4 linked regions of the Homo sapiens genome follow. The protein of the gene in region 1 interacts with the protein of each later gene in a pairwise test. Each region holds a gene or a part of one and is shown in the gene's direction. Other genes may lie near its edges. The genes, in order: MAP3K3, ZBTB16, GLRX3 and GTF2I.

Region 1 (5,262 bases):
ATCCATATAACCTCTTATATAACCATATAAGCTACTCATATTTAAAAATATTTATTTTTATACATTTGTATTTATATACTCTGGTTTATATATTGTCTAATTCTGTCTTTTTTTTTTTTTTTGAGACGGAGTTTCGCTCTTGTTGCCCAGGCTGGAGTGCAATGGCACCATCTTGGCTCACCGCAACCTCCGCCTCCCAGCTTGAAGCAGTTCTCCTGCCTCAGCCTCCCGTGTAGATGGGATTACAGGCATGTGCCACCACGCCCAGCTAATTTTGTAGTTTTAGTAGAGACGGGGTTTCTCCATGTTGGTCAGGCTGTTCTCGAACCCCTAACCTCAGGTGATCCACCTGCCTTAGCCTCCCAAAGTGCTGGGATTACAGGCGTGAGCCCCTGGGCCCTGCCAATTCTATCTTTTTTTTCATACAACTTTGTATTTGTGTGTTGTTTATCTTTTTATCCCTAGAGTTTGAACACCTTGAAATATCTTTTAAAACTTTCTAATGTGTAATACAAGATAAGTATTCAGTAAATTGTTGTTAATGATTTATAAAAGTTCAGTAATAAAATTAAGTATTAGGGTAGATTAAATGGCCTCCAGTCTTTTTCCATTGACCTTTTCTCATTGATGATAATAATAGCCAGCATTTTTTTAGCATTACTGTGTTAGGTACCATAAGAAATAATTCGTAGGTTTTCTGTTGCTTTTAACTCCCACAGCAGCTTTGTGAAATGATGCTTTATCTCCATTTTACAGATGAGGAAATTGAGGTTTGGAGAGAATAAATGATTTGCTCAGGGCCTCCTTACCAAATTTTTCTGACTCTGAAGTTCATATTCCTAACTGCTTCAGTCTAAGAAAGTTGTTATTTGTTGTTTTTTTTTTTGAGATGGAGTCTCGCCCTGTCGCCATGCTGGAGTTCAGTAGCGCTATCTCAGCTCACACCAACCTCCGCCTCCTGTGTTCAGGCAATTCTCCTGCCTCAGCCTCCCAAGTAGCTGGGATTACAGGCGCACACCACCACGCGCAGTTAATTTTTTTGTATTTTTAGTAGAGACGGGGTTTCACCATGTTGGCCAGGCTGGTTTCGAACTCCTGACCTCAAGTGATCCACGCATCTTGGCCTCCCAAAGTGCTAGAATTACAGGCGTGAGCCTCTGCGCCCAGCCTGTTATTTGTTTTTAAAAGTTTTGTTTGTTTTTAAAGAATGCCACATTGGAGGAGTGCTGATAATTCAGTTAGTCTCAGTCCATACCACAGAGATAACTGGCTTGTGGCAGCCAAGTGTGCATAGTGATGTTGCTTTTTAGAAGGAAAAAAAACAAAAACAAAACCTCAATCCAGGAAGAAATGCCTAAAAGAGCCACTTGATTTACTTCCTGTCTTTATACATGTCCTCTGAAGTATCAGTTGAAGAACCTGTCTACCTCTAGGAATGTATTTTACTTTGACACAAAATTAGATTCTATAACCCTGATTCACTTGTGTCAGTTGTCCCAGATTTCAGATGACAGTGCCAAACTTTTCCACTAGTGTGTTCTCAGCTCTGGAACTACTAAACAAGTTTGTTCATTAAGTAATGCCAGGAATTGGTTAGCTTCCTGGAAACAGAATTTGTCAACCTGATAAACCAGCTCTTATAATAGCGTCATCTTATACAGAATTAGAAATGATTTCTTCAGTCATACTTGTGGATCTGACTTGAAAAGTGGTGTGTGTATGTGTGTGCCTGTATGTGTATTCACATCCATCTTTGTTCAATATCTGAGTTGAAAGAACTGAAAATTCTCAATACTTAGGGTGGTTAATGTTGTTACTGATAACTCCTTGCATTCCGCTTTTAGGAGTATTGTTGGATGCTCCTCAGAAAACACTTAAACCTAGTCATAATCCTCCTTGTATTGATCCCAATTTATTATTACAGTTGGCCCAATTTTATATATATTTAATAATATCTAAGCCATTTAATATATAAACCTATACATATTATATATAAGCCAATCTTCCTAGCTTAGATGTTATGCTCTAGTTTTTAAAGTTTGGTTGTGAGGATAAAAATCAAAACAAAAAACCAAGTTCCCTTTTTGTTTTTGGGACAGGGTCTCACTGTCGCCCAGGCTGAAGTACAGTGGCATGATCATGGCTCACTGCAGCCTCAACCTCCTGGGCTCAAGTGATCCTTCCACCTAAGCCTCTCAAGTAGCTGAGCCTACAGCGTGCACCACCATGCCCAGCTAATTTTTTGTATTTTTTGTAGAATGTAGTTTTGCCATGTTGCCCAGTCTGGTCTCGAACTCCTGGGCTCAAGCAATCCACCTGCCTCAGCCTCCCAAAGTGCTGGGATTACAGGCATGAGCCACCCTGTCCAGCCAGGTTCCCTTCTTTAAAGAAGCTATAGGGAAATTGTAGAAGGTATAAAATAATTGATGGGATATATATGTGTTAATTTGACAGATGTCTTTTTGTAGATACCCACTTTCTCCTCATTCATTATCCCCTTTACTGCATGCTTTCTATATTACAGCTATGTCACTCTCATACATACTTTTGTATATGTTTTGAAGTGGAATCATATGGGAAGTTATGCTCCTGGTGGTTTTCCTGCAAGTTTTAAATCTAATTTTACTTTCCTGAACAAGCAAAAACCTCTTTATAGGCAACTTTGTCCTTTTCTGTACCTCGTCAGAGGGCATATAGGGCACCAGAGCAGATTTCGTCTAGGAAGAGGGGAGAGGCAAATAAGGTGAGGGGCCAGGCACGGTGGCTTATGTCTGTAATCCCAGCATTTTGGGAGGCTAAGGAGGGAGGATCGCTTGAGCTCAGGTGTTTGAAATCAGCCTGGGCAACATGGTGAAACCCTCGCTCAATAAAAAATACAAAAATTAGCAGGGCATGGTGGTGTGCACCTGTAGTCCCAGCTACTCTGGAGGCTGAGGTGGAGGATTGTTTGAGCCTGGGGGTGGAGGAGGCTGCAGTGAGCTGTGATTGCACCACTGCACTCTAGCCTGGGCAACAGAGTGAAACCCTGTTTCAGTCAGTCAGTCAATCAGTTAATCAGTAGTGGGAGAAGAGACTTGAGCAGTTTTACTTCCTACATTTCATGCTGTTCGTTTCTTTCCACAGGGTATTAGAATATTTCCAAGGGACAGTGATAAAGGGTAGAAGATAGGCACTCTCTTTGGGTGGAATCTTTTGTATTTGCTTCTTTTAAGGTGTGCCCCAAGTCCCCAAATGGCTCAGTTGTCACCAAAGCAAGTGTAACAACTCATCCCTCATGTTCCCTTCACGATCAACAGATTTATTCATTTTCAATCTCCAAATGCTATTTGAATGGGCAAAGATCTCTTAAAGGACCTGGGAAAAATTTGTACAACATGGAATTGGACTGGTTTGTGTTCTGGGTTTTGGCCAGTTGTTTTCAATGTATGAGAACTCTAGTACTCCATGCTATTTCAAGAAAAGGGGATTAAAAGTAATGCCAGTAAGGTGGAGACAATGCATTGCTTGGTCAGCTTAGGGAGGAAAAACAATAGAACTACCCTTTGACTTCCCCATGGGAAGTAGTAGGCCTATAAACTTGTAAAGAGTTGTGGGGGTTGCTGGTGGTGGCGGCATTCAAATGCTAGGCTTGTAAAACAACTTCTGTTCAAAGCAGTTACCTGAGGCCCTTATTTGGTACCTTTTAAAGTGTGCTCTCCTCCTTATGATGCTTTAAGAATAAGTCTGGGACTGACACTGTGCCATAATCCTCTCTCTATGGATTCATCTTTTCATTCAGTACCATATTACATTGTACTGTGTTCTTCACTTCAATTTTTCATCTATTTTTCCTGGTTAAGTTTCTCTGGCACTGGACCAACTGCCCTGTTTGAGCGTGTCCCTTCCCTGCAATGAATTGGTAAATATTGCTGCAGGAAATCTGATTGGAGGGCTATTAAGAAACCATTAAAGGCCAGGCATGGTGGCCCACACCTGTATGTAATCTTAGCACTTTGGGAGGCCGAGGCAGGAGGATCACTGGAGTCCAGGAGTTGGAGACCAGCCTGGGCAACATGGGGAGACCCCGTCTCTACAAAAAATAAAAAAATCATCCAGGCATGGTGGTGCATGCCTGTGTTCCCAGCTACTCAGGAGGCTGATGTGGGAAGGTCACTTGAGCCCCAGAGTTGGAGGCTGCAGTGAGCTATGATCACGCCACTGCACTCCAGCCTGAGTGACAGAGCAAGACCTTGTCTCGAAGAAAAAAAAGAATCCATTAAAATTCAAATTGCCATAGTCTGACCTTTTGGGCTGCATCTGATTATAGTTACAGGGTCTGTCATTTTACCTGGGCAGAACTCCCTGAGTATTAGTTATACAGTTTGTGAAAGAGCTTTGCTGGTCTGTATTTAAGTGTCTTAGTCCATGTGCTCTCTTTCATTGCAGACGAACAGGAGGCATTGAACTCAATCATGAACGATCTGGTGGCCCTCCAGATGAACCGACGTCACCGGATGCCTGGATATGAGACCATGAAGAACAAAGACACAGGTCACTCAAATAGGCAGGTGTGTGTGACCCTGGCAGAGCTAAGTGAGATTTGTTGGGGAGGGGTTTTCAAATGGGAAATATACGAAAAGCCAAGGAGACTACATTACCAGGGTTGAATGCTTTTGACCCCTTCCTTTCACAGTCTGTTAAATGGGAAGTAATACATACCAACCAGGTATGGTTAAATGGTAAGTGATATTGGGAGGCCGAGGCAGGCGGATCACCTGAAGTCAGTAGTTTGAGACCAGCCTGGCCAACATGGTGAAACCCTGTCCCTACTAAAAAACACAAAATTAGCCAGGTGTGGTGGTCCATGCCTGTAGTCCCAGCTACTCAGGAAGCTGAGACAGGAGAATCGCTTGAACCTGGAAGGCAAAGGCTGCAGTGAGCCGAGATAGCACCACTGCACTCCAGCCTGGGCAAGACAGAGTGAAACTCTGTCTCAAAAAAAAAAAAAAAGTTATATATGCCATGCAGTTATGGATCTATGATTTGGAGTCTTAAAGCCTTGTGTAAGCATTTCATCTGTTATGGGGACAGTATTCATATTCGTTTTTCCCCTTTACTGATATTTGGCAAATATTTAATTCAGATTCATGATCCCTAAGTCAGAAGGTTTTTAGCTACCTTACAGTATATAGTCAGGAAAAACTAATTAATTTGGTATTAGCTTATGTAAAATATAATTAAGAAGGTAAATTTATTAATTAAAATGTCACCTAGTATATTCTG
Region 2 (4,540 bases), on another chromosome or scaffold:
CATTGAGCTTACCTCCCTATAGGGGAGAGAGCAGAGGTGGGGCAGCCTTTCGACTCTGTCCATGACGGCTGGCAGGGTCAGGGTAGTTTCTGGGCCTGCTTCCCGGCAAGCCGAGCTAGGGTGAAAACTGGGGGCGCACCAGGATGTGAGACAGAAAAGCAGAAGATGAGACTCTGTTCATTCACTTTTCCTAGGCCCATCCTGTGGTCATCTTTCCCCCTCCCATCATACCTCCTCCTTCCTGGAGCCTCTGCCGGCTTGGCTGTAATGGTGGCACTTACCTGGATATTTCAGTGGGAGGATGAAAGGCGAGACTCACCCTACGCGGTGGGACAGATGGGGAGAGGAAAAAGGCAGAGATGGCCAGGAGAGGGGTGCAGGACAAACCAGAGAGGTTGGGTCAGGGGAAAAGGGTGGGGAGAAAGAGGGGTGCAGGCCCTGCAGGCCGGTTAGCCAGCAGCTGCGGCCTCCCCGGGCCCTTGGCATCCAACTTCGCAGACAGGGTACCAGCCTCCTGGTGTGTATCATAGGATTTGTTCACATAGTGTTATGCATGATCTTCGTAAGGTTAAGAAGCCGTGGTGGTGCACCATGACATCCAACCCGTATATATAAAGATAAATATATATATATATGTATGTAAATTATAGCACTGAGGGCCCTGCTGCCCTGCTGGACCAAGCAAAACTAAGCCTTTTGGTTTGGGTATTATGTTTCGTTTTGTTATTTGTTTGTTTTTGTGGCTTGTCTTATGTCGTGATAGCACAAGTGCCAGTCGGATTGCTCTGTATTACAGAATAGTGTTTTTAATTCATCAATGTTCTAGTTAATGTCTACCTCAGCACCTCCTCTTAGCCTAATTTTAGGAGGTTGCCCAATTTTGTTTCTTCAATTTTACTGGTTACTTTTTTGTACAAATCAATCTCTTTCTCTCTTTCTCTCCTCCCCACCTCTCACCCTTGCCCTCTCCATCTCCCTCTCCCGCCCTCCCCTCCTCCCTCTGGCTCCCCGTCTCATTTCTGTCCACTCCATTCTCTCTCCCTCTCTCCTGCCTCCTGCTGCCCCCTCCCCAGCCCACTTCCCCGAGTTGTGCTTGCCGCTCCTTATCTGTTCTAGTTCCGAAGCAGTTTCACTCGAAGTTGTGCAGTCCTGGTTGCAGCTTTCCGCATCTGCCTTCGTTTCGTGTAGATTGACGCGTTTCTTTGTAATTTCAGTGTTTCTGACAAGATTTAAAAAAAAAAAAAAAGGAAAAAAAAAGAAAAAATGAATTTACTGCTGCAGGTTTTTTTCTCTCTCCATGTGTCACTAAGTGAAGTTTGTGCCTTCTATAGCAAAGAGAATATTTTTTACATCCTACTAACAGTAGATTTTTTTGTAGTGAACATTTTTTGTATTTTTATTTATAAGTCTCATAAGAAAAATAGCAATGTTCAGTTGTATACCTTGAATCTGCAGTTAGAAGAGAATAAAGTTAATTCAGTTGTCTCTCGCTTGAAGCGTCCCACCTTTTTATTGAAGTACTTGGTTTTGTTTTGTTTTTTTTTTTTGTTTTTTTTGCCTTTTCTTGTGTGGGGAACATGGTAGAGGAATTAAGATTTTTGTGTGGGGACTGGGAAAAAGAAAGCTCTGTATTACACATATTTAGACTTATCTATGTGTCACTTTTATGCCACATTTACAAGGCACAGATGCACTGAATAACATTTTTCTAATACTTTTTAGTTAAAAAATGTTAAATACGTTAATATCGTATGATCCTTGGTACAATGTGCTAGGTAGGCACTTGTTCACTTATTCAGCAAGACCACCATGTACCAGTTACTGTTGTCGGCGCTGGGAATTACAGCAAAGGACAAACAGACAAACCCTGGCCGCCCTGGGGCTACCATGCTAGCGGGCCGCTGAGTCGGAATCCGTGGCTGTGTTAGGATAACTTGCTCAGGATTGCACGGCTGGTGAGCAGCAGTCAGAACTCCATCCACCTCTCCTGATACCAGGCCAGGTTCCTTTACTCCAGAGTTCTCAAAGCAGGGGTCTCACGTCTTCTTTAGTCTTTAGAGAGACATTTTCAACTGACTCCTTAGTGGCTAAGCAAGCTTCAGAAATTTCTCAACAAGAAGCTTCCACACAATCAAAGGTCCCTGCCTGCGTCTGTAGCAGCCAAGAGCTGTTAAGAAAGGAGATTGGAGCAGGTGGCCTTGTGCAGGGGAGGGGATGGGTGGGAGGTGGCCGTGCAAGCTCTGCATTGTCATGGACGGAATAAAGGATTTCCACAACACTCAATGGGTACGATTCCCTCCCTGTCTCATCTCCCTGTGTCTGGGCCAAGCCCTCTTCTCTGGCCCTTTCCCCGTTCCTCTTATCGGGGATAGAAGCATCGCCCTATCTTTAGCTGTAAAACCAAAGCCACTCAATCCTAGACGTGGTGCTTCAGCACCTCTGCCTGAGGCCGTCCTCACTGCCTGTCTCTGACCAAAATAACCCCTCTCCTCCTCAAGACCCAGGGGACACAGCCATGATTGTCGTGCTGGGTCACTCCGGTAGGGTAAACCCACACCGAGCATCAGGCCTGGCCTCCAGCATCACCAGGAGTCGCAGGGAGCCATCACCCCACGCGCCACCGCCACCCACCTGGGGAGCCAAACAAGGCCTGGCCTGCCAGGGGTGGCACTGGGAGGGTTACCTTTCAGCCCTGTTCTCCTGGGGCCAAGACCCGGGTCTGTCTGACCCTGGGGTTGCTGAGCAGAAACCGCCTGGAGCTACCCCTACCACCGGACAATCTTCCCAGGAGGAGGAACAGGTGCAGCCTGGGGGCCTCCAGCCCCTAGAAGTTGCTTCTCTGTCTTTGCTTTCTCCTCTCCCTCTTTGCCGTCTGCTGTGCTTTCTTGACCCCTCCTGCCCCTCATCTTTTTCCTCTCTCCCAATCTTTTTTCTCTCCTTTCCACTCCTCCCCTCTCTTCCTCATCTGTGGTCTTTTCTCCTTTCTTTTTGCTTTTGTTTCTCTGTCCCACCTTATTTTCCCTCTCCACATATTTCTCATCTGGGAAACCAGTCCTTAACCAAATTCTGTGTTTTGATTTTGAGCAGTTGCCACCATTCCCCCAAGCCGTCCTGATCCTGGCTTTTCTTGGGCCCCTGCCTATTTCCTCACCCCCACACTCTACTCCAACTCCCCGACACACACACACAGACACACACACACAGCCTCCTCGCCCCTCCCCCAGCTCCCCTCCCCTCCCTCAGGCCTCAGCTTTCTCTTGACAGATGGGAGGGCAGTGAGCACTCCCTCTTTAAAACAACATTTAATCGCCGTTTTCTGTTCTTGGACATCAAAGCTGGGGCTTAGGCGCTGTGCTGGGGTCGCGGCGGCGCGGGCGCTGGGGGAGAGGAGGTGAGTGAATAGGGGCTGGGCTGAATGGGCTTTGTGTGACCGCCAGCTCTGCCAGCTTTACATGCTCTTTGACCCAGATATGATCTCATGGAGAGAAAGGGGCCCTGGCCAGGCCAGCCTGAGAATGCTCCCTCCGTGGCCTGACTCAACCCCTCTCCTCCCTGCCTGGGGCAGGCGGCCCCACTGCCGCCCCCTGCCAGCCCCGGCTGCCACTGCCCTCTGCCCCAACCCTGGCAATTGTGGGCAGCCTCCTCCAGAACACACTCACCAGGAGGGCACATTGCTGGGGTCAGAAGAGGGGACAGGCACCGAGGCAGGGGCTGGGAGGATGCCGCCGTGGGGCTGCAGGGTGTTCTCCAGGGACCTTAAGCGGGAGCTCCCCGCATGCCCTGTAGTCCTGGCTGGGTTCAAGGAGGCGTTTGGGTCATTTCAGCCTTAGCAGCTCTCCTCCCAGTCGCTCTGAGGAACTCCTCTCCTGACCAAAGTGGAGAGCTGAGGCCCGGCGCCAGCAGAGGTTTGCTGAAGACTCAGGCAAGTTGCAGCCCGTGAGAAGAGGCATAAGGGAAGCCAAGGCCAAGGCCGCCTCCCTCCACTCAGCACGGCCAGGCCTTCCCATGTGGGAGCCCCTCACGCCCCTGGCACCAGGAAGGGAGGGGATTGGGGATCTGAAGATGACTGGCCTCAGTGCCCTGCTTCAGCCCAGACCCTCTGTCACTTCCATCCTCTGCTTTGCTTGCTGCCCAGAGCGATTTTCCAAAAATGCAAATAGCATCATGTCGCTCCCTAGATGAGAGTCCCTGGTGACTCCTCAGTACTCTGAGGATGGAATTCAAACTCCTTAACAAAGTTCCAAGACACCCTGAGTGACAGAGCCCCTGCTCAGCACCCAACTTCGTCTTAAGATCACTCTTGAGCCCCTCGGCCAACCCCTACTCTGCTCCAGCCGATGGGACCACGGGTGTTCTGGGCCACACCGAGCTCCATTCCCCTGTGGGCCTGTGCGTGTGCTGTTTCCTCTTCTGAGAGCTACGCAAACACACACACCCCTTCTGTCTGGCTCTCTCAACTTCTCCTTTTTCACTTTTCAGCTCAAACCTTCTCTCAGGAAGCCTTCCCTGGACCCCTGAAGCTAAATTAGGCATAGAGTCT
Region 3 (5,262 bases), on another chromosome or scaffold:
TGGTTGCCATAACTAGTGTATAAGTTAACATAACTAGTATAATGAAGCTAATTAGTTAACATAACTGGTTAATATAATTAGGTAATAATGAAAGTAACAGTAACAAAGAAAATGTTAATATAAATTTCAGCATGTTGGAAACATTAGGTTAGGGCCTAAATTCTTTGATTTTGGTTCAGTGTATTGAAACAATAGAGGAAGTTAATAATTCCTAGTAATGATAAAGTGACATTTTTTCTTATTCTCGGTAATGGTTTAAGTGGATATTTATTCTCAAAACTATTTTTTTCTGGAAACCTAGAAAGTATTAATACATTTTGGAAACAATGTTATTGGGGCTATTAAAATGTTGACATGGTACCATATCTTTTCCACAAGATTGCTGGAATTTGGAGTCCTGTGGCATGAAAAAAGCTTAAGATTTTCATAAACTCAAAAAAGTGTTAGTATTCTGTAATGTAAAAATAAATGAGGCTGGATGCGGTAGCTCATGCCTGTAATCCCAGCACTTTGGGAGGCCAAGGCAGGTCCGAGGTCAAGAGATCGAGACCATCCTGGCTAACATGGTGAAACCCCATCTTTACTAAAAATACAAAAAGTTTGCTGGGCGTGGTGGCGCATGCCTATAGTCCCAGCTACTCGGGAGGCTGAGGCAGGAGAATCGCTTGAACCTGGGAGGTGGACATTGCAGTGAGCCGAGATCACACTCCAGCCTGGGGACAGAGTGAGACTCTGTCTCAAAAAATAAATAAATAAATAAATAAATAAATAAAATAAAAAGAAAAATGGGAGTCAGAATCCAGTTGGAAATGGGAAAATAATTGTCATAATCATTGCAAAAAGGCTAAGTGAGTTAAGATCATTTTGCATGAGTGAATTAAACAATGAACTCAAATCTCTGTAGAAAATCTCGGTTTCACTTAGAGGAACTTTTTGACCACAGAGAATATAAACTGTTGGAACACATGTCATCTCAAGTGGTTACAAACCAAAGGAAAAGGAAGTCTGTGGGTCACGTGTGCCTGGGTTGATGTGTAGATGGGTTCGTACTTGAAGAGGGGATGAGCAGAAGCTCTGGGAGCTGAGTGAAAGTAGTGGCAGCTATGCTGGACAAGTGCTGTGCTGGTTGACAAGAGTATTAGGTACAACCATGCTGCTTGGGTCATACAAAAATTGTAATCTTTGCAAATTTTTTTTCATTTAGGAAGCAAAATGTGGATTCAGCAAACAAATTCTGGAAATACTAAATAGTACTGGGTATGTAAATGTTGTTTTCAAATGGTGTATTAAAAAAATTCCAACCTGGCCAGGCGTAGTGGCTCACGTCTATAATCCTAGCACTTTGGGAGGCTAAGACAGGAATATTGCTTGAGCCCAGGTGTTCGAGACCAGCCTGGACAACATAGTGAGACCCCATCGCCACAAAAAATAAAAAAATTAGCCAGGCATGGTCACATACATCTATGGTCCTAGCTACTTGAGAGACTGAGGTGGGAGGATCACTGGAGTCTTGGAAGGTGAGGCTGTAGTGAGCCGTGATTGCACCACTGCACTCAGCCTGGGTGACAGAGCAAGACCCTGTCTCAAAAAAAAGAAAAAAATATTTCAACTTTTCAGTTCTGCCACTGATACTTTTCAGTTGTAATGTCTATATCCATACATATCTGTATCTTTCTTTATTTTTTGCTGTATTGTTTTGTGAATGCCTTAACTTAGATCAAAATAGTATTTTCTGGCCAGTGTCAACCTATTAGTAACATAAAGGAGGTCTTTAGGCCACCTTTGGAATAACTATTTGTCTACTTTCCCAGAGGAAAATGTATAACTGAGTCCTCACCATGCATAAAGATATTTCAGGGGAATATATTATAGGTAGTTTTTAATTTTTCTCAAATATCCTAGTTGCTAAACAGTACAGAAAGCTGAGGGGCACATATTAAGGTCCATTACCTGGATCTGAGAGGTAGCACAAGTTAAATTGCAGTGCTCCTAGTTTTGATGTGCTCAGTGGTGAAGCTGTCAGGTAAGAACATTGCCATTGATTTTTGTGGTTAAAAACAAAAGCACTTATTTGGAGATATACAGCACATGTTCTATAGGGTTTGTCAGATATTTTTGTTTATTTCTCATTTCATGATTGTATCTTTTAAAAATCATGTATTCTAACTGTAGCTTCAAATAAATTACTTTCAAGTAATCTTTGATATACTTCAAAGATCTATTGAAAATAGTTAAATAGTACAGGTTGAATACAATTTCAGGGACATAAAAAGAATATAGGGCCAGGCACAGTGGCTCACACCTGTAATCCCAGCACTTTGGGAGGCTGAGGTGAGTGGATCACTTGAGGTCAGGAGTTCGAGACCAGCTTGGCGAACATGGTGAAACCCCGCCTCTACTAAAAATACAAAAATTAGCCGGGTGCGGTGGCGCACGCCTATAATCCCAGCCACTCAGGAGGCTGAGGCCTGGAGAATCACTTGAGCCCAGGAGGTGGAGGTTTCAGTGAGCTGAAACCACGCCACTGCACTCCAACCTGGGTGACAGTGAGACTCTGTCTCAAAAAAAAGATGTGGTTGTCGTCTTTAGATTACTATGACATTTTATAGAAGCAAGTATAGTCAGTTTATTGTAATTGTAACTTCAAGCCTGTTCCTTTCTTCACCCCTGCCCTGGGCCATACAGTGGGGGCTGGCTTGTTTTTGGTCATTTTTGATTTTCCCCTTTCTTTGTCGACCCTCTGCTGCGGGTCCACAGTGAGACACACACAGTCCATCCCTCTCTAGCAGTACCAGGTTCCTCAGGTGTCTTCTGAGCCGACACACTGGGCCTGACTCAGCTCGTGTCTTTGGTGGAACATCTTGGTAACTTGGCTTTCTGTCCCATATCTGTCTAATCTCCATTGTATTGAAAGCACCCTGTTGTCGCAGAGAGCAGGAGGATGCTTTGGGAGAGCATGACCTCCCAGCTCTGGACTTGCTAAGCGTGATTGGCCCTAGGATGAGTGAGGCCATCCAGGACCTCAGCTTCGCTTAACACGAGCAGACCATGCTCTTGCTGGGCGCCAAATGTATGTGGAGAAAACTCCTTTTTACTTTTTCTCATTTCTTATCTTTTCCTTTAGTAGCCAAAATACACATGCATGAGTGGTTGAGAACCAAGTGTATATTGAGGTTTGAAAGGTACCCTTTATGAATAACTTTTAGGAAGTATACTGGCTGTTAGGACTCCACATACATACACTTGGGCCCAGTGCTTCCTGGATCCTTTATGAATAGTTGTATAACTCATTGTTTTTATCACAGTATTAAGAGATCTGCCACCTTTAGTTCAACTTGAACAAAGACTTACATTGGGGTTTTTAAAAAGCATTAGGTTTACATTGGGGTCTTTTTTTGTTCTTCTTTCAAACATTCCTTTTTTGGTAATTGCTTCTGATTTATCCCGTCATTTAGTTTTTTTGACTGTTCCCTGTACCATAGACAGTTTCCTTGGGAACTTGTTTACTAAATAAACAAGATTTCCCTATGATGGTTTCAGTTTTATGGAAAGTCCAGTTTTTTTTACATGTAGCATTTTCTTTGGCCACCTTTGGGAATTGCACCTGTACCCTCAGGCACCCTGCAAGGATTTAGGCATACATGCTTGCTAATACCTGACCACCTAACGGTGAAATCGCTCTGAGTGGATACAGTTGGATATTCATGCAGTGATTTTTCATTTTTTGTACAAGTAATGTTCATTGTATGGTATAAAGCCACAAAGCTTTCATTGGCCTTTTGTACATTAAAAACAGCACCCTCTCTGAAATAAGTTTAAGTGTGGAAAGCATGTCTCTTGCTAAGGTGGAGGGAGCTGGCAGCGTGGTTGTTATCCGGCTGCTGAGCCCTCCAGCCTCCGTCCACGAGCACTACTACATCCTGCTGCACGGGCAGCTTCCAGGAGGTTAAGAAGCAGCAGCCTGGGGTGGGTTAGACATTAGAAGTGGGTAAGAGTGTTCAGTTAATGAAGGCTCGTGCAGATGGGGGTGTGGGTCTGATCCAGGGGTTGGCAAGTTGCAGCTGGCTGCCCATTTTTGTAAATAAAGTTATATTGGCACATAGCCACATCCCTTCATTTATACATTGTCTGTGGCTGCTTTTATGCTGACAGTTGCAGCAGAGAGCAGAACTGAGCAGTTGCAGCAGAGACTGTCTGGCCTGTAAAGCCTGAAGTGTTTAGTGTCTGACTCTTTAAGAAGAAGTTTGCCCACCCCTGGTCTAACCCAATATTGTCCGGAGAAAAATCCAGATAAAGTCATATGTTGGAATGACTAATTCTGTGTAGTACCAGACAGATTAAGAAGTAAAATCATTTCCATTGGTCTGTAGTACATTTTGTTAGCAGTGAAACGGTTTTCTTGATTATTTTAAAAACATCAAATGCATAGAGGTTTTACACTTTGATTTAACTGTATTTCCAGTTAAAATGTCTTCTCTTTTTTGCAGTGTTGAATATGAAACATTCGATATATTGGAGGATGAAGAAGTAAGTTCTGTGTTTGATGTTTCACCCTTGTCTTAGCTTTAATCTTAAGGGCCTGATAGGATGGTTTCAGGATTCCTGTTGTTTCTTTAGGTTCGGCAAGGATTAAAAGCTTACTCAAATTGGCCAACATACCCTCAGCTGTATGTGAAAGGGGAGCTGGTGGGAGGATTGGATATTGTGAAGGTAAGGCCAGTTCTTCTGCTGTTCTAAAGAACGGAAAAGATTTTGGTATGTTTAAAAATGATTTCATATTGAATGGAAACTTGAGAGTTGTTTTTGACTCCTGTTTCCAGCCTGACTCTCAGACATTTCTAGACCAGTATCACCGTTTCTGTGTGCATGACTACCCTGCCATTCTCACTGTCCCCACGTGGCAGCCTGTTCTTACTTTCACACCTGAGCTAACCATTGCATCTCCTTTCTGTGGGGTGATCTTCCCTGTCACTCAGGGTCCTTGTTAGATCCTGCTTCAGCTCCCAGACAACAAATTGTTTTTTCTTGCCTTACTCATCTGCCCTTGGGTGCATGGAGTGACAGCAGTGTGAGGCCTGTGGCCCGGTGCTGCCCATCCTTGCCACAGAGGCTGAGGATCACTGCCCCTGGTCCCCCGAAAGAAAAAATGTAGGTCCTTTTTGGTTTTGAGATGCTTGGAAATCTGTTATCTGTTAGATTGTGTTTTAGATAAGACACCATTTCTTATGTATCTTGAGTCCTTCCTGATGCTTTGTGTATTTT
Region 4 (5,262 bases), on another chromosome or scaffold:
CCTCCTTCCGGAAGAGATCAGAGGAAGATCTCTCTTATATACAAGATGCCAGCCTTTCCTAAAGGGCAGAGCCAAGTTCACGGGGCCTGGGAGGCCTGCTTTAAGAATACAAAATTAGGGCCAGGCGTGGAGGCTCACGCCTGTAATCCCAGCACTTTGGGAGGCCGAGGCAGGCGGATCACCTGAGGTTGGGAGATCGAGACCAGCCTGACCAACATGGAGAAACCCCATCTCTACTGAAAATACAAAATTATCTGGGCCTGGTGGCGCATGCCTGTAATCCCAGCTACTCAGGAGGCTGAGGCAAGACAATCGCTTGAAACCAGGAGGCAGAGGTTGTGGTGAGCCGAGATTGCGCCATTGCACTCCAGCCTGGGCAACAAGAGCGAAACTTTGTCTCAAAAAAAAAAAAAAAAAAGAAGAAGAAGAAGAAGAGAAGAAAAATGGGTTTCTGTAGAAATAGAAAAATGGTTTCTGTGGAACTCGCCGGAATGACAAGAATACCCATTTCAATTTGAACCTAGCTTTGTTTTCTGGCACAGGCTGGACTTGAAGATTGTAACCTAGAGACACTTACGTCATTAAATGTGTGTTGATTATCATTATTTTTTCTGTCTTTTAGGCCCTAATAACAACAATCCTCAAACCTCAGCTGTTCGAACCCCGACCCAGACTAACGGTTCTAACGTTCCCTTCAAGCCACGAGGGAGAGAGTTTTCCTTTGGTAAGTAAGCGTTTTATTTTTCTTTCTTTCATAGTTTTAAATAGAATACGTTCATTATGTTTCATTTTACCAGGTGAATTGTTCCTATTGGTGAGTCAGTATATATCAAAGGTTAAAGGAATAGCCCGTAGAGCCAGGCTGCCTGAGTTCAGATCTGAGTTCAAATCCGATGCCACTTGGGCAGGCGAATACACCCTGCCTCAGTTTCCCTTTGTGCAAAATGGTAATAACATTACTTTCTTTCTCATGAGGTTATGGTGAGGATTATAAATACTGTCATTTAAAGTACTTAGAACCATACCTCGCATGTAGTAGAGACTATAATTTGTGGGGGCATTTTGGGGGTTTTCATTTGTTTTTTCTTTATTTTAGCATTTGTTCACTTATTTGTAGTCAACATAAAAGCAATGTACTAAAACAGTTTGCTTATGTATCAGGATGGGAGTAGTTGTCAAGTCATATCATGGTAAAAGATTATGCATTTTTTATTTCTTCTTAAAGATGCACAAATAAGGCCAGGCGCAGTGGCTCACGCCTGTAATCCCAACACTTTGGGAGGCCGAGGTGGGCGGATCACCTGAGGTTGGGAGTTCGAGACCAGCCTGACCAACATGGAGAAACCCCGTGTCTACCAAAAATACAAAATTAGCCAGGCATGGTGGCGCATGCCTGTAATCCCAGCTACTCAGGAGGCTGAGGCAGGAGAACTGCTTGAACTCAGGAGGTGGAGGTTGCAGTGAGCAGAGATCGCACCATTGCCCTCCAGCCTGGGTAACAAGAGCGAAACTCTGTCTCAACAAAAAAAAAATAAGATGCACAAATAAGATGAAACACTCCTGCCTGTGAATGTGTATTGATAAGTACTGTGATAAGTATTGCAATTTAACTCTCTTATGTTTTATATGCAGAGGCCTGGAATGCCAAAATCACGGACCTAAAACAGAAAGTTGAAAATCTCTTCAATGAGAAATGTGGTAAGTCTATTTTGAAACCTTCTTACTGCCACGCAGGGTGCCTTCATGGGAGTAGGAGGGAGCAGAGTGGGATACTGAGCGTTGGAGTATCCCTGTCATTGGCAACGTGTGGGTTTTTCGGGATTGAATGGCGTCATTTCGCCCATGTTCTGTTTCGTGTACGCGGCTGTTTTGCAGGGGAAGCTCTTGGCCTTAAACAAGCTGTGAAGGTGCCGTTCGCGTTATTTGAGTCTTTCCCGGAAGACTTTTATGTGGAAGGCTTACCTGAGGGTGTGCCATTCCGAAGACCATCGACTTTTGGCATTCCGAGGCTGGAGAAGATACTCAGAAACAAAGCCAAAATTAAGTTCATCATTAAAAAGTAAGGAAACTGGATGAAGTGGGATTAGCATGAGTTGATTGTGTTTGACACTGGGAGATGGGTATGTGGGTTTGTGTTTGTGGCAGGGCTGAATTAGCTCTGGAGTCAGAAAAACTGCTTTTTAAGCTGCACTCTTGTATATGTTTAAAACTTCTGGCCAGGTGCGATGGCTCACACCTGTAATCCCAGCACTTTGGGAGGCCAAAGCAGGTGGATTACCTGAGGTCAGAAGTTCAAGACCAACCTGGCCAACATGATGAAACCCATCTCTACTAAAAGTACAAAAATTAGCTGGGCGTGGTGGCACGTGCCTGTAATCCCAGCTACTTGGGAGACTGAGGCAGGAGAATCACTTGAACCCAGCAGGCAGAGGTTGCAATGAGCCAAGATCGTGCCACTGCACTCCAGCCTGGGCAGCAAGAGCAAAACTCCATCTCAAAAACAAAAAAAAAAAAAAAAAAGAAGAAGAAATTTTCCTTATGCTGCTGGTAGAAGGGAAGGAGGACTCCACCATACTAGAGAGATAACGACTTTTGGTTGCTAAATCTACACAGCTATGTTGTTACTATTTGATGCTGCTGGAATCTGAGCAGCTGTTTAGTTTTTCAAGTCCTTTTATTTCTCCAACTTAATAGAATATTTTCAATTTCTCCTGTTTGCTTGAACATCTGTGGATTAGGCTAACATAATTGAAATAGATAGGAATGGGCCGGGTGCGGCCATAAATCCCAGCACTGTGGGAGGCTAAGGCAGGCAGATCACTTGAGGTCAGGAGTTCGAGACCAGCCTGGCCAACATGGTGAAGCCCCATCTCTACTTAAAATACAAAAAAAAAAAAAAAAAATAGCCAGGGGTGGTAGCTGGCACCTATAATCTCAGCTACTCAGGGAGGCTGAGACAGGAGAATCACTTGAACCCAGGAGGCGGAGGAGATCGTGCCATTGCACTCCAGCCTGGATGACAGAGTAAGACTCTGTCTCAAAAAAAATTAAAAAAAGAAATAAGAATAATTGGAATTTTATAGTACATGCTAATGCACATGAATTATTTGAAATCAATTGAAATGAATTTTAGGTTTCATTTGCTTGGTGTCAGGCTTAATTTTGAGTCACCCAGGGATGCTCTCAAGCAAAGCTGGCCACTTTTTTTTTTTTTTTTTTTTTTTTTTTTGTGAGACAGAATCTCGCTCTGTACCCAAGACTGGAGTGCAGTGGTGTGTGATATCGGCTTACTGCAAATTCCGCCTCCTGGGTTCAAGCGATTCTCCTGCCTCAGCCTCCAAAGTAGCTGGGATTACAGGCATGTGCCACCATGCCCAGCTAATTTTTGTATTTTTAGTAGAGAAGGGGTTTCACCATGTTGGTCAGGCTAGTCTCAAACCCCTGACCTCATGATCCGCCTGCCTCGGCCTCCCAAAGTGCTGGGATTACAGGCGTGAGCCACCGCGCCCGGCCAATGGCCACCTTTTATGCTTTTGGCCAGGTCTGCAGAGGTTTGGCAGCCTCTAAGCCCTCTGCTTCTGCTTCCGGAGTGAGAGCCTCAAGTGCTCCTGTTTTCACAGCCCATCTTGTGTTTCCATGCTGCGTTTGTGGGGCGTTTTCTCTTTGCATCCTCAATTCTGGCGCTGATTCTTTTCAGGATACATTCTAACCTTGGAAAGAAGATGCCAATAAAACCAGTGTAGGGGAAGGGCAGCCAATGAGAGGCAGCAATGGATGTTAAATTTACAATTGTGGTTTGTCTTTTTGGCTGTGGTTCTTTAGATAAGCATGTGATTTCTGTTCTTCATGACTAAGAATTGAATTTAGACTTTACAGAGTTACTGGTTTGTAAATCTTTGAGTTGTTTAAATTTTAATGTTAGAGTTTTACTGTTTGATCAGCACATTTTTTTTCTCTTTTGTCTATAGGCCCGAAATGTTTGAGACGGCGATTAAGGAGAGCACCTCCTCTAAGAGCCCTCCCAGTGAGTGTATTTTCTGTATTTTCATTGCTATAGAACACACGCTCTTAGGCATGCATTGTGCAGCTGTGGTTTACAAACATTGTTTAAAGAATAGCCATTGAGGCCAGGCATGGTGGTTCACGCCTGTAATCCCAGCACTTTGGGAGGCTGAGGTGGGTGGATCACCTGAGGTCAGGAGTTTGAGACCAGCCTGGCCAACACGGCAAAACCCTGTCTCTACTAAAAATATAAAAAATTAGCCAGGCGTGGTGGCAGGCGCCTATAATCCCAGCTACTCAGGAGGCTGAGACAGCAGAATCACTTGAACCCGGGAGGCGGAAGTTGCAGTGAGCCGAGATCGCACCACTGCACTCCAGCCTGGACAACAGAGCAAGACTCATCTCAAAAAGAAAAAAGAAAACCCATTCAAAGTTGTAGTTCAGGCTATTTCACAATTTTTAGTTATTTAATAATTGGGTGGCTCTGTGAGTGTGTGATGATCTCCTAAGTACCCCCAGGAAGAGAAAAACAGTGAAAGGCAGCCCTTCAGGGGGCATCATGTCTTCTTGAAATGATCTACCATGGAAAGAAAGAACCTTGAACAGGACTGAGATAAAACAGTCTCAGACAGCATGATTATTAGAGATGTTGACCGTGTTTTCTACAAATTCTGATTTTAAATGTATATTTTCAGGAAAAATAAATTCATCACCCAATGTTAATACTACTGCATCAGGTGTTGAAGACCTTAACATCATTCAGGTGACAATTCCAGGTATGAGTTCTCTGCTTCCATCAGAGTTTTTGGGGGTCTCTTCAGGGCCTCTTGGACTTTCCCAACTAGAGAGGTTTGCTCAGCTCATCCGGGGACTCGGATACATTACACGTTGCCTGGTGCTCCTCCCAGACTCCTACAGCAGTTGCCTTCCAAATACAGTTGCTCTCCAAACAGCAACGGCAAGTTTTGGCACTTGGCATGAGCTAAATCCTGTTAACCACCCAAATGGCTAGTCTGTTCCTTAAAAAAAGTCTATATGAGACCGGGCACGGTGGCTCACGCCTGTAATCCCAGCACTTTGGGAGGCTGAGGCAGGAGGATCGCTTGAGGTCAGGAATTCAAAACCAGCCTAGCCAACGTGGTGAAACCCTGACTCTACTAAACATACAAGAAAAATTAGCCAGGCCTGGTTGTGTGTGGCTGTAATCCCAGCTACTTGGGAGGCTGAGGCAGGAGAAGTGCTTGAACCCGGGAGGTGGAG

The links.
Region 2: the proteins of MAP3K3 (region 1) and ZBTB16 interact in a two-hybrid assay, tested with the Homo sapiens proteins (one large-scale study listed by BioGRID and IntAct).
Region 3: the proteins of MAP3K3 (region 1) and GLRX3 interact in a two-hybrid assay, tested with the Homo sapiens proteins (2 studies listed by BioGRID and IntAct).
Region 4: the proteins of MAP3K3 (region 1) and GTF2I interact in a two-hybrid assay, tested with the Homo sapiens proteins (one large-scale study listed by BioGRID and IntAct).

What each region holds. Positions count from the first base shown.
Region 1 is NC_000017.11:63,628,256-63,633,517, forward strand, and holds part of MAP3K3 (mitogen-activated protein kinase kinase kinase 3), read left to right. Parts: intron 1-4,425; coding exon 4,426-4,547; intron 4,548-5,262. UniProt on the Homo sapiens protein: Component of a protein kinase signal transduction cascade. Mediates activation of the NF-kappa-B, AP1 and DDIT3 transcriptional regulators.
Region 2 is NC_000011.10:114,254,488-114,259,027, forward strand, and holds the end of ZBTB16 (zinc finger and BTB domain-containing protein 16), read left to right. Parts: 3' UTR 1-2,278; downstream 2,279-4,540. UniProt on the Homo sapiens protein: Acts as a transcriptional repressor. Transcriptional repression may be mediated through recruitment of histone deacetylases to target promoters. May play a role in myeloid maturation and in the development and/or maintenance of other differentiated tissues.
Region 3 is NC_000010.11:130,170,380-130,175,641, forward strand, and holds part of GLRX3 (glutaredoxin-3), read left to right. Parts: intron 1-1,204; coding exon 1,205-1,257; intron 1,258-4,487; coding exon 4,488-4,527; intron 4,528-4,617; coding exon 4,618-4,710; intron 4,711-5,262. UniProt on the Homo sapiens protein: Together with BOLA2, acts as a cytosolic iron-sulfur (Fe-S) cluster assembly factor that facilitates [2Fe-2S] cluster insertion into a subset of cytosolic proteins.
Region 4 is NC_000007.14:74,747,393-74,752,654, forward strand, and holds part of GTF2I (general transcription factor II-I), read left to right. Parts: intron 1-622; coding exon 623-724; intron 725-1,632; coding exon 1,633-1,698; intron 1,699-1,875; coding exon 1,876-2,059; intron 2,060-3,968; coding exon 3,969-4,024; intron 4,025-4,697; coding exon 4,698-4,778; intron 4,779-5,262. UniProt on the Homo sapiens protein: Interacts with the basal transcription machinery by coordinating the formation of a multiprotein complex at the C-FOS promoter, and linking specific signal responsive activator complexes.